Homo sapiens: one gene and its partners. The protein of the gene in region 1 interacts with the protein of each later gene in a biochemical or structural test. Each region holds a gene or a part of one and is shown in the gene's direction. Other genes may lie near its edges.

Region 1 (3,479 bases):
GGATAGAATATCCTTGTTAGTTATATAAAAATAAACTTTTTTTTGCTTTTTGCAGATTTGAAATTTAATTAAGCTATTAACTTCTTAATCATCACATCCTCCAACTCTGTTTTAACTCCCCCCTCCCCCTCCCCTTTTTTTTTAAGGAATAAAGGGATTCATTCCTCATTTTAACTGATGTTACAGTGAAGATGGGTTCTTGAACTCTTGGAAGCCTGGATGAGCCACCTAATCTGCAAGATAAAAACCAAAGACCAATGCGTATTGGGGAAAAGAATGCTTAGTACTGCAAGACTGTTGAATACCTGTTGAATATTCCTATTGAGGTTTTTTCCTAAACATACTTCAGTAACATCTTAGGACAATTCACTGGAGAAATGTTGATCCCTGGCTGGAATGTCATACCATTGACCCATTTGAAGAGTTAAAGCTGGATTTGACTGCTCTATTCTACCAGGAATATTGTTAGGGTAGCCTTTTACCAGTTTCTAAACAATTGTAATCATTTATTGACTCAGCAATTCCTCAGATAACAGGTCAAAAGATGTACAGATACATTCTGAAGTTTTCTTGCTATTAAAGGCACAAGAGTTTCCTTGTATTTTGACTGACAATGTAGCATGTTTCCATTTTAGTTTGTTAGTGATGGTGGTTTTCCCTTTGAAAGCCATTTGGTATATTCACCATAACAATTAGTTTAATATGATTACATAAGAAAACTATGATAAAACCCAGCAATTTTAGTAGTTGTGAAAATACGTTTTTTAAATCATGTTTAAGAAGAATTGCAAGACTTGAAACCAAATCCTGATGGGGGAATTCTGTTTAATCCTGTTTAATCTGTTTAATTTCTGTTTAATCCTTAGTTTCTTAACCTGCATAGCTTATCCTGTATTGTACTTTTTTTCTTTTTTAAACTCCCAAACAAGAAGCTTGAAACTTTTCCTGTATTTTAAAATTGAAATTTGGTCACAGGGTATAGTCAGATTTTTATTAAGGTTTGGTTTGACAACCTTTAAAAGAAAGGTTTACCTCGCTAATACTTCTTAATAACATGCATCAAATGATATTCCCTATGGTGAAGTATATTCTCAAAGTTATGTTATCTTTCATTTTTGGCATTTGGTGCTTATGGACTTAGTACCCAGGCAACAAAGATCTATTATGCACCTACTCTCTTGTATGTTCGCTATTATTTCCCAAAAAAAAAAAGGGGCATATATGCATAAGAAATAAATATTAGAATTATTTTGTTTCTCCCACAAAGCCCATGGGAGATGGCCCAACAAATGTTTAAAAAGTAAAAGAAGCTGGGCACGGTGGCTCCCACCTGTAACCCCCACACTTTGGGAGGCCATGGCGGGTGGATCACGAGGTCAGGAGTTTGAGACCAGCCTGGCCAACACAGTGAAACTGTGTCTCTACTATAAATACAAAAATTAGCCAGGCATGGTGGCAGGCACCTATAGTCCCAGCTACTCAGGAGGCTGAGGCAGGAGAATCGCTTGAACCCAGGAGGCAGAGGTTGCGGTGAGCCAAGATCATGCCACTGCCCTCCAGCCTGGGTGACAGAGCGAGACTGTCTCCAAAAAAAAAGAAAAAAGAACTAAAAGAAAAGGAGCAGTTTATGATTGAAGAAAACATGACCTGGGCTGAAGAAGTGAGGATTGATTGGAGTGGGCTAGAATGAGCTATAGTTTCTAGCTCATTTGTAAGGAGGTAGACAAAGGAGCATTGGTGCCTCAGAGTGGGTGTCTGGTGAGAGGAAAAACGGTGCTTAAGAGATTTTCAGGCTATTGCTGTGGGACAGGCATATTTTCTCCCTTTGCCTTTAGCTGTAGATAAAGTGTGGTTATGACCTGAGGCTTCTTGTATTCAAACTTGGCCTAGGGCCTATGTAGAGGCCCTAGGGTCTACTTGTGGTGGAGGAGGGAAGTATTTGTAGAATGTGTAGGCTTGAGAAGTAAATAAAGCCAAAAAAGCATCACTTGCTTACATTTTTAAATGAGTCACAAAACAATCTTTCTAATGCGGCCGGTAAAGAAGTTTTAAAGGTCTAAGGTTTCTCTACAGAAATTACATGCTTCTCAGGTCTTTGTTTAGTAAAATAATACAGATAATTATGCTTTGAATGCATTTATTATTAAAGCTAACCGTTTTAATTTGTGTCAGAAATAATTTGTGCCTATGGTAGGATTAAAATTGTATTCTTTAGTTAAAGCAAAGCAATCTGTTTTTCATTGATTTGATAAATATGTGAATGCCTAATATGTTCTGCATATGTAAAAATGCAGAAACATGCTCATTTGAATTACTAATAATTATTTTAGTATGCTGAGAGGCTTTGAATTCACTGTACCACTCCTTCCTAGAGTCATTCAAAACAGAAAAAATTAGTTTTAAGTATAGATTCATGTTTTTCTGTTTTAAAAAGTTGAGCTAATACTTTTCACAAGAGACGAAATAACATGAGCCACTATAATTATTGGCTCAGTTCCACCCAATTTCCATATTTTGGGTGTAATTTAAAATTTTTGACTTGGAATTTTAACTTTTTTTTTGTTTTGATTTTTTACCAGGTTTCTAAGCATGAATTGAGGAACAGAAGAAGCAGAGCAGATGATCGGAGCAGCATTTGTTTCTCCCCAAATCTAGAAATTTTAGTTCATATGTACACTAGCCAGTGGTTGTGGACAACCATTTACTTGGTGTAAAGAACTTAATTTCAGTATAAACTGACTCTGGGCAGCATTGGTGATGCTGTATCCTGAGTTGTAGCCTCTGTAATTGTGAATATTAACTGAGATAGTGAAACATGGTGTCCGGTTTTCTATTGCATTTTTTCAAGTGGAAAAGTTAACTAAATGGTTGACACACAAAAATTGGTGGAGAAATTGTGCATATGCCAATTTTTTGTTAAAACCTTTTGTTTTGAACTATACTGCTTTGAGATCTCATTTCAGAAGAACGGCATGAACAGTCTTCAGCCACAGTTGTGATGGTTGTTAAATGCTCACAATTGTGCATTCTTAGGGTTTTTCCATCCCTGGGGTTTGCAAGTTGTTCACTTAAAACATTCTTAAAATGGTTGGCTTCTTGTCTGCAAGCCAGCTGATATGGTAGCAACCAAAGATTCCAGTGTTTGAGCATATGAAAGACTCTGCCTGCTTAATTGTGCTAGAAATAACAGCATCTAAAGTGAAGACTTAAGAAAAACTTAGTGACTACTAGATTATCCTTAGGACTCTGCATTAACTCTATAATGTTCTTGGTATTAAAAAAAAAGCATATTTGTCACAGAAATTTAGTTAACATCTTACAACTGAACATGTATGTATGTTGCTTAGATAAATGTAATCACTGTAAACATCTATATGATCTGGGATTTTGTTTTTATTTTGAAATGGGAGCTTTTTTGTTTACAAGTTCATTAAAAACTAAAAACTGTTTCTGTAAGGAAATGAGATTTTTTTTAAACA
Region 2 (3,500 bases), on another chromosome or scaffold:
AGATGGAGCCACTGCACTCCAGCCTGGGTGACAAAGTGAGACTCCGTCTCAAAAAAACAAACAAAAAAACCAAAATAAAAGAAAAATAATAGACAAAGAACATAGACAATTCAAAAAAGAAACTGAACAACATACTTCAGAAAAGATATTTGGCCTCGCCAACAGAGAAAGGCAAAATGAACCCGTTACAATTTTTCATCCATTAGATTGAAATTTTTGAAAGATTAGTGATACAGTGTGTTGGTGAAAATGCAGAATAACAAGCAGTCTTCTGCAGTGTTGGTAAGAGTGGCGAAGTTTATTAGAAGGTGAGGCACCCAACAAACTCCACAAGCCCATAAGTTTGGCTGCAGTTCTACTCTCAGTAATCTATACTGCTCACGTGCACTCAAAGATGTAGTTTCCATTCTTTGCACCTTAGTTTATAAGAGTGAAAAATTAGAAACAACTCAAATGTCCATAAGTAACTGCCCTAAATTATGATTCATCTAAACTACAGAATACTAATAGCCATTTAAAAGAAAGAGGTGGAAACTAACATGTAATGATATAGAAAGATCTTCAAGATTAGCTGTTAGTGAAAAAAATAAGTCACAAAACAATACTTACAGTGTGGTCCTTTTAATGTTAAAGATATATATATTTTGGCCTGGTGCAGTGGCTCATGCCTGTAATTCCAGCACTATGGGAGGCGGAGTTGTACAGATCACTTGAGGTGAGGAGTTGGAGACCAGCTGGCCAACATGGTAAAACCCCGTCTCTACTAATAATACAAAAAAAACTGGCCAGGTATGGTGGTGCATGTCCATAATCCCAGCTACTCAGGAGGCTGAGGCATGAGAATTGCTTGAACCCGGGAGGTGGAGGTTGCAGTGAGCCAAGATTGTGCCACTACACTCCATCCTGGGCAACAGAGTGAAACTGTGTCTCAAATATATATATATTTCTGGAATGTGTGTGCAAATTCCTAGAGAGAGAATAAGAGTGATATGCATCACACTCTGGATAAGGCTTACCTCTAGAGAATGGAAGAGTAGGTGCTGAAGGAATGTTTGGATGTTATTCTATGTGATTCTGCATTGTTTGAATCTTTGGGGGTTTTTTTGGTTTTCTTTTTGAGACGGTCTTACTCTGTCACCCAGGCTGGAGTGCAGTGACACAATCTGGGCTCACTACAACCTCCACCTCCCGGGTTCAAGTGATTCTCGTGCCTCAGCCTCCCGAGTAGCTGGGATTACAGGCGTGTACCACCACACCCAGCTAATTTTTTTGTACTTTTAGTAGAGATGGGGTTTCACCATGTTGGCCAGGCTGGTCTTGAACTCCTGACCTCAAGCGATCTGCTCGCCTCGGCCTCCTAGAGTGCTGGGATTACAGGCGTGAGCCACCATGTCTGGCCTGTTTGAATCTTTCAAAAGGACTTTGTACTTAACATATTTGTGTAATAAAAATAACTATAAAAAGAAAATCAATTTGATAAAATTAAAATAACAAAAATACTTTTCATATTAGGCTAAGCAGGGTGGCTCGTGCCTGTAATCTCAGCACTTTGGGAGGCTGAGGTGGGTGGATTTCTTGAGGCCAGTTCAAAACCAGCAACATGGCAAAAACCGATCTCTACAAAAAACACAAAAATTAGCCAAGCGTGGTGGCGCATGCCTGTTGTCCCAGCTACACAGGAGGCTGAGGTGGCAGGCTCTCTTGAGCCTGGAGGTTGAGCCTGCACTCTAGCCTGGAGGACACAGTGAGACTCTGTCTCAAGAAAAAAAACAACAAAAAACCCTTTTCATGTTAATTAAAAACAATAAACATACAGCTGGGTGAGGTGGCTCATGCCTGTAATCCCAGCTCTTTGGGAGGACAAGCTGGGAGGATTGCTTGAGCCCAGGAGTTGGAGGTTTCAGTGAGCTATGACCATGCCACTGCACTCCTGCCTGGGCGACAGAGGCAGATTTGATCTCTAAAAATAAACATGCAAAGAGACAAAAACAATATATAGAATGCTACAAAGTGTGAACATAATTAATACCCTCTGTCATTCTCCCCTAGATCATGCATGTATTCATTTAGCTAGTATTTTTGACCACTTATTTATATAGCAGACAATCGTTAACAGCAAAATACAAATAAAACTAGGAAAAAAAAAACTTGAAGGAAAAATACCAAAGTGTTAACATTTTATCTTTGGGTGTAGGGCAAAACTATGGATAGGTTTTAAGAATATATAATTTTCTATGTTTTCTATAATGAGGATTATTGCTCCTATAAGGAAAAAGTTTTTTACTGTGGCAAAATATACTTAACATAAAATTCTCTATTTTAACCATTTTTAAGTGAACAATCCAGTGGCATTAAGTACATTCATAATGTTGTGCGGCCATTACCACTATCTATATCTAGAACTTTTTTATCATCCCAAACTGAAACTCTGTACCTGCTAAACGGTAACTCCCCATTCCTCCCTCTCCCAGCCCCTGGTAGCTTCTATTCTGTTTTCTGTCTCTGAATTCTAGGTAGCTCCTAGCAAAAGGATCACACAATGTATTTCCTTTGGAGTCTGGCATATTTCACTTAGCATAATGTTTTCAAGGTTCATCTGTTTCATAGCATGTATCAGAATTTCATTCCCTTTTATGGCTGAATAACATTCCATCATATGGATATACAGGTTGAACATCCCTAAACCCAAAATCCAAAATTCAAAATCCTCCAAAATCTGAAACGTTTTGAGTGCCAGCATGATGCCACAAGTGGAAAATACCACACCTGACACCTCTGCTTTCTGATAGTTCAGTATCCTCAAACTTTGTTTCATGCACAAAATTATTAAAATATGGTATAAAGTGACCTTCAGGCTATGTGTATAAGGTGCATATGAAACACAAATAAACTTCATGTTTAGACTTAGGTCCTCTCCCCACGATCTGTCATTCTGTACATGCAAATATTCCCAAATTGGAAACAATCCAAAATCCAAAACACTTCTAATCCCAAGCATTTTGGATAAGGGATACTACACCTGCACCATATTTTGAGTTCCTGCCTTCAGTTCTTTGGGGTATATATATCCGGGTGTGGAATTGCTAGATCATATGGTAATTCTATGTATAACTTTTTGTTTTTCTGAGACAGAGTCTCCCTCTGTTGCCCAGGCTGGAATGCAGTGGCACCATCTCGGCTCACTGCAACCTCCGCCTCCCGGGTTCAAGCGATTCTCCTGCCTCACCTTCCCGAGTAGCTGGGATTACAGGCATACACCACCACGCCCGGCTAGTTTTTTGTATTTTTAGTAGAGATGGGGTGGTTTCACCATGTTGTCCAGGCTGGTCTCAAACTCCTAACCTCAGGTGATCTGAGGTCCCAAAGTGCTGGGATTACAGGCGTGAGCTCCCATGCCCGGCCATGTTTAACTTTTAAGTACTGTTAAAATTGTTTTACATGGTAGCTACACCATTTTATATTCCCCACCAGCAATGCACAAGGATTCTAATTTCTCCACC
Region 3 (2,649 bases), on another chromosome or scaffold:
TTCCTTGGCCTCCCAAAGTGCTGAGATTGCAGGCATGAGCCACCACGCCCCAATCATGTATATTTTGAGGCTATTAAAAAAAATCTGCATTATTCAAAAGAGGAAACAGCGACCCATTGGAGGTGGCAGAGGTATAGCAGCAGCTAGCATTTATTGTGCACCAACTGAATGCCAAATATTGTCCTGTGGGCTTTGGATGGTTTAATTCACTAACCATCATGGCAGTCCTCTGAGATAGGTGCTCTTCTGCTCTTCTTCCTATAGATGGGGAAACTGAGGCACAGAGGGGGGAAGTCACCTGCCCAGGGTTGCTCAGCTAGTGAGCCAAGGAGCCTGGATTCAAACCAGCATCCAGCTTTCTCTGGAATACCATGGAGGGTGGTGTGGTGGGGATGCTGGGGTGGGTGCGGCTCCATCACCTGGTGGAGCCTCCATCCCTTGCCCTCTGCAGGTGAAGCTGTGTGACTTTGGCTTTGCTCGCATCATCGGCGAGAAGTCGTTCCGCCGCTCAGTGGTGGGCACGCCGGCCTACCTGGCACCCGAGGTGCTGCTCAACCAGGGCTACAACCGCTCGCTGGACATGTGGTCAGTGGGCGTGATCATGTACGTCAGCCTCAGCGGCACCTTCCCTTTCAACGAGGATGAGGACATCAATGACCAGATCCAGAACGCCGCCTTCATGTACCCGGCCAGCCCCTGGAGCCACATCTCAGCTGGAGGTGCCTGGGGCCCGCCTACCCCATGGGCGGGTGGGTTGTGGGGTGGGGCTGGAGAAGTGGGCGGAGCCATGAGAGGGGGGTGGACCCGGAAACAGCCTGGCACCTTGGGGGTGGAGCCCAGTGCTGGGGCGGGCCTACTGGAGGGATGTGGCTACAGGAGGAGCCGTCCTGTAAAAGATGGGCTGGGACTCAGGCCTAGACTAGGTTACTTGGGCTGGAAACCAAGTGCCCCAGAAGCGCTGAGGACACTTGGAACCTTAGGGGGGCTGAGTGAGACTTGGCTTGTCTAGGGTGGGACCAGGAAAGGGACTGGACTTGAGGGTACCAAAGGGCTGCGGTGACCAGGAGAAGGGGCTGAGCCTCCCAAGGCATTGGCTGGGACCTGGAGCCTTTGGGTTTACGACCCCAAAAGGGTCAGCCTTGCAAAAAGGAGGCACCGGTGGGTAGGGTTGAGAAACAAGGGCATGGCTACTTTGCTGTGTACTGGGGCCGTGACTTGGGTGAAGATGGGCCTGAAGCCTGGGGTCGGTTCAGTGACCAAGGGAGCCAGTCTAGGGACGTGGCCGTGGAGGGTTTCCGAAGAGGTCCAGGAACAGGGCTGACCCTGAGTCCTGGAAGCTGGGAGTGGATGGGAGTGGGGAGGAGAAGGGAGCCAGGACTGAGGCAGACATTGCACTCTGCATTCTGGGGCTTTGGTGTTGTGGCTGGGCCTGATGAAGTGGCACCGGGCCTGGTGACTTGAACCTACTTGGGAATGGGTCTGTAACTTTCCCTGCTTGGAAAAGTTAAGTCCTAAGGCCTGGAGCTTTGAGGCTGGGTGTGGGATGGCATGTTTAGAGGGCCAGAGGCAGGGCTAAGATACTGGGGTGTGTCAGAAGCCAGGAGAACAAGGGACCTGTGTTGGAGCCAGGGAGCTCAGGAAGACAGATGGAGTATGGGAAGGGGGGGGATCATTCATTCATTTATTTATAACCATTTATTCAACAAGTACATTCATGTATTTGTAACCATTGATTCAACATGTTGAGTGCCCACGATGTGCCAGGCATTGACTGTTCCAGCTCTGGGAATACTGTGATGACTTGGACAGAAGGGGTCAGGTGCAGGGTAGCTCATTGAGTGGTCCGCGAAGGGTGGAAAGGGGAAGGGTCCTCTCTGGAGGGTGCGGCTTCATGGAGCAGGTGGAGCAGGGTGACACGGAGGTTGCTCGGTGCAGGACAAGACAAGGTCTTGGTGGTGGTCTAAGAGCATGGGCCCTAAGCAGTGAGAATGTGGATTGACTTGAGTCCTGGAGTAATATTGGGGGTGCTCAACACTGGCTTTTTTTTTTTTTTTGAGGTGGGGTCTCGCTCTTTCACCCACGCTGGAGTGCAGTGGCGTGATCTCGGCTCACTGCAACCTCCACCTCTTGGGTTCAAGGGATTCTCCTGCCTCAGCCTCCCGAGTAACTGGGATTACAGGCACACAGCACCATGCCTGGCTCATGTTTTATATTTTTAGTAGAGACAGGGTTTCGCCATGTTAGCCAGGCTGGTCTTGAACTCCTGACCTCAAGTTATTTGCCCGCTTCAGCCTCCCAAAGTGCTGGGATTGCAGGCATAAGCCATCACACCCCGCCAGCATTGTCTTTTGAGACCCACTCAGAAGTCCCTCAGTAAAAGTGCATCGAGTGTGCACAAGTGAATTTAAGTGTGGTTGCACCTGTGTGAGGATCACAGAATCCTGTGGGTGTTGACGGGAGCAGGGTGCCTGTGTGCACCAGGCCTCTCCTCGGATGGGTTCATACAGTGAAGCCTTGTCCTTCATGGCTTCCCATCAAGGAGAGAGCCTCGGATGAGTGCTGGCTTGTCTTGAAGCTTGACATTCGCTAGTCCTCTTTTTCACAATGAACAGGCCTATCTCTGAGCCTTCTGCAGGCAATGGTGACTAA
Region 4 (3,500 bases), on another chromosome or scaffold:
ACATATGTGCCTATGGAAGTTCATTTACCACCAGAGGTAAGAGTTACTGTTTAGAACTGAGTTATAGGCATAGAAATCATAGCATTTCCATTTTGCTTGTCATTTAAAAATAGATACTTAGAAAAAAATAGAGACCCAGGGTCTCGCTGTATTGCTCAGGCTGGTCTTGAACTCTTGGGCTCAAGTGATCCCCCCCGCCTCAGCCTTCCGAAGTGCTGGGATTACAGGTGTAAGTCACCAGGCTTGGCATGGATACTTTTAAAAGTGTATGTCAGTAAGCGCACCAACACCAAATACCAACTGCTTTAATGTTTTACTTTTGTACTTAGAAGTCCAGTTAAGCACATAGCTAATAATGCCAAATTTCTGGGTTCAGGGTCAATTTCCCTGGCTCTTCTTCCATCTTCCCAGGTTATACCCCTCACTCTACCTAGCTATTAAGAATTCTTGCACATATTTCACCCATAGGTGGGATTGCTAAATGATGGGTCCTTGATTAAATCTATCCTGACTCCTGGTAAACTGTCTAGTCCAGGACTGAAGCCCATAAAAGGGATTAAGGCTAGACAGATAGATATTGAGAATCCTCCATGGAGATGATTATGAAGGCCCAGGGAGTAGATTTCTCTCAAAGAGGAAGAAAAAACAGCAGAGGCAGAACTTTAGAAAAGGCTCACATTTGGCAGATGGTAGAAAGAGGAACCTGTGAAGGAAACCAATGCAGAAGCAACAGTGAAATAAAGGAAGCAGCATAGTGCAGAGGCACAAAAGCTGCTGCAGGTGAATGTTTCAAAAGAGGGGATGATTAAATGTTCAGAGAGAGCAAAAGGTATAAATCCTAATAAATCCCATTTGATTTGGTGGTTGGGAGATCATTGTTTTTCATCAAAGTGATTGGTGGACCTACTGGATATAGTCTTAAAATTTTCCAGAAACTATATCACATGAGGTAAGTATAAAAATGGTAAATGTGGTATTGGATACAGAGCTTAAATAAAGCCTTATTTTATTTACTTTAGATGGTAAAACTTCAGGAGATTTTCAAGACATTTTACCTAGGCAAACATAGTGGCAGGAAACTTCAGTGGCAGTCAACCCTAGGACACTGTGTGTTAAAAGCAGAATTTAAAGAGGTAAGTGGATGTTCCCAAAACTTTTAGTTTTCATCTTTATCTTTAATGTTTAGGTCATCCTTCTTAACTGAAAGTTTAGGCTATTGTTTTTTGTTTTCTTCTTTTTTTTTTTTTTTTTTTTTTTTGAGACAGAGTCTCACTCTGTCACCAGAGTGGAGTGCAGTGGCGCTATCTTGGCTCACCGCAACCTCTGCCTCCTGGGTTCAGGTGATTCTCCTGCCTCAGCCTCCCGAGTGGCTGGGACTACAGGCGTGCGCCACCATACCCAGCTAATTTTTTTTGTATTTTTAGTGGAGACGGGGTTTCACCATGTTGGCCAGGATGGTCTCTGTCTCTTGACCTTGTGATCCACGCGCCTCGGCCTCCTAAAGTGCTGGGATTACAGGTGTGAACCACCGCATCTGGCCAGTTTAAGCTGTTGTTTTATAATTGTATCCTAGATATCCGCATGATGACAGTGATAGTTTGTCATAGCTTTATGTATTTTTAAGTAATTTTAGGTGTGTGGTCTTTCCACGATTGATTTGGCCCTTCTGCAAAATGAAAAGCAGTGAACTTTCCCCCTACCCTTTCCTCACCTGTGGATGAAAACTGTACACTGCCACTTCCTATTTTTATTTATTTGTTTATTTTTAGAGATAGGGTCCCACTCTGTCACCCAGGCAGGAGTACAGTGGCACAATCATAGTTCACTGTAACCTCAAACTCATGGGCTCAAGCTATCCCCCTGCCTCCGCTTCCTAAAGTGCTGGGATTACAGGCATGAGCAACTACACTTAGTCTAACACTGCCACTTCTTGACAGAAATCTTGTTGCTGGGAGCTACGAATAGAGTGGGAGTTAAGGGAAACAGTGTGCAATATCTAATCTCAAAAAACTTTAGCTTTTCATGACTAATCTGAGCCAAACAAATCAAAAATACATTTGAAATAGTGATTTCTTGCTGCTTGTGATGAATATCTAGAATGACACATAAGGCTGATTAATTTTCATTACTGTATTCTATTTATAAGGCTTAAAAAAAAACTGTTAAAAGGTCAGCTAATCCTTCCCCCTATTTTAGGTAGGGTCACACCTAAACCTCACACTGAAATACTGTATTACCACGTCAAGTGGCTTTGCTGGATAATGCTAATCATGTTTCTAAATCCACTAATTGAAAAATGCTTTTCCTATAAGAGATGATTAATTTTTCATGTGTTTTTAAAAAAGTGATGACTAAACACTTTTATTTCTTCAACAGGGTAAAAAGGAACTCCAGGTCTCTCTTTTTCAAACACTGGTGCTGCTAATGTTTAATGAGGGAGAGGAGTTCAGTTTAGAAGAGATCAAGCAGGCAACTGGAATAGGTTTGTAGCAAACATTAATTGTTCACTATGTGCACACCACTATGTTAAGAGGTCTGGGGGACATATTTATAGGAATAATTCCTTGCCTCAGAACTGTTTTGAGTTTTTTTTTTCTTTTTTTTTAATGAGACAGGGTCTCACTCTGTCACCCAGGCTGGGGTCCAGTGGTACAATCATGGCTCAGGCTCAAGTGATTCTCCTGCCTCAGCCTGCCAAGCAGATGGGACTACAAGTGCATGCCACCGTGCCTGGCTAATTTTTAAAATTTTTTTTTGTAGAGACAGGGTCTCACTATGTTGCTTAGCCTGGTCTCAAACTCCTGGGCTCAAGGGGTCTTCCTGCCTCAGCCTCCCTAAGTACTGCAATTACAGGCATGAGCCCCTGCAGCCAGCCAGAACTCTTTTTTTTTCCCCTCAAGACGGAATCTTGCTCTGTCACCCAGGCTGGAGTGCAGTGGCGCGATCTCGGCTCACTGCAACCTCTGCCTCCTGTGTTCAAGCAATTCTCCTGCCTCTGCCTCCCGAGTAGCTGGGATTACAGGCGCCTGCCACCACACCTGGCTAATGTTTGTATTTTTAGTAGAGACGGGGTTTCACCATGTTGGCCAGGCTGGTCTCGAACTCCTGACCTCGTGATCCGCCTGCCTCGGCCTACCAAAGTGCTGGGATTACAGGTGTGAGCCACCGCGCCTGGCCAGAACTCTTTATATAACCATAGGGAAAGGGGGAAATGACACTTGAAATAATGTCAAAACCCATAAGTACTGGCTTGTGGTACTGACTATAAGTGTGGTAAGAGTGCAACAAAGCAAGAGATCACCGTGGACTGGCACAATTGGGAAAGCTGTCATGAAGCAAGTGGCATTTGAGCTGGGCCTTCAAGTTTTGGTCAGGGAGAAGGCATATACAGCAAGGGGAAATATTTTGAGATGAGGTTGGGAGGTAGGAATGGGCACAGTATAGGCCCATGAAGAGCTTAATTGTAGCATAGAATCATGAAGAATCATGAAGAGCTTAAT

The links. Proteins that work in one complex are often made in the same cells at the same time.
Region 2: of the proteins of CSNK1A1 (region 1) and RIPK1, one has a biochemical effect on the other in vitro, tested with the Homo sapiens proteins (one study listed by IntAct).
Region 3: of the proteins of CSNK1A1 (region 1) and PRKD2, one has a biochemical effect on the other in vitro, tested with the Homo sapiens proteins (one study listed by IntAct).
Region 4: of the proteins of CSNK1A1 (region 1) and CUL4B, one has a biochemical effect on the other in vitro, tested with the Homo sapiens proteins (one study listed by BioGRID).

The regions. Positions count from the first base shown.
Region 1 is NC_000005.10:149,495,961-149,499,439, reverse strand, and holds part of CSNK1A1 (casein kinase I isoform alpha), read left to right. Parts: intron 1-2,579; coding exon 2,580-2,587; 3' UTR 2,588-3,479.
Region 2 is NC_000006.12:3,099,494-3,102,993, forward strand, and holds part of RIPK1 (receptor-interacting serine/threonine-protein kinase 1), read left to right. Parts: intron 1-3,500. UniProt on the Homo sapiens protein: Serine-threonine kinase which is a key regulator of TNF-mediated apoptosis, necroptosis and inflammatory pathways.
Region 3 is NC_000019.10:46,676,466-46,679,114, reverse strand, and holds part of PRKD2 (serine/threonine-protein kinase D2), read left to right. Parts: intron 1-451; coding exon 452-719; intron 720-1,658; exon of another isoform or gene 1,659-1,975; intron 1,976-2,649.
Region 4 is NC_000023.11:120,533,463-120,536,962, reverse strand, and holds part of CUL4B (cullin-4B), read left to right. Parts: coding exon 1-36; intron 37-1,019; coding exon 1,020-1,133; intron 1,134-2,376; coding exon 2,377-2,482; intron 2,483-3,500.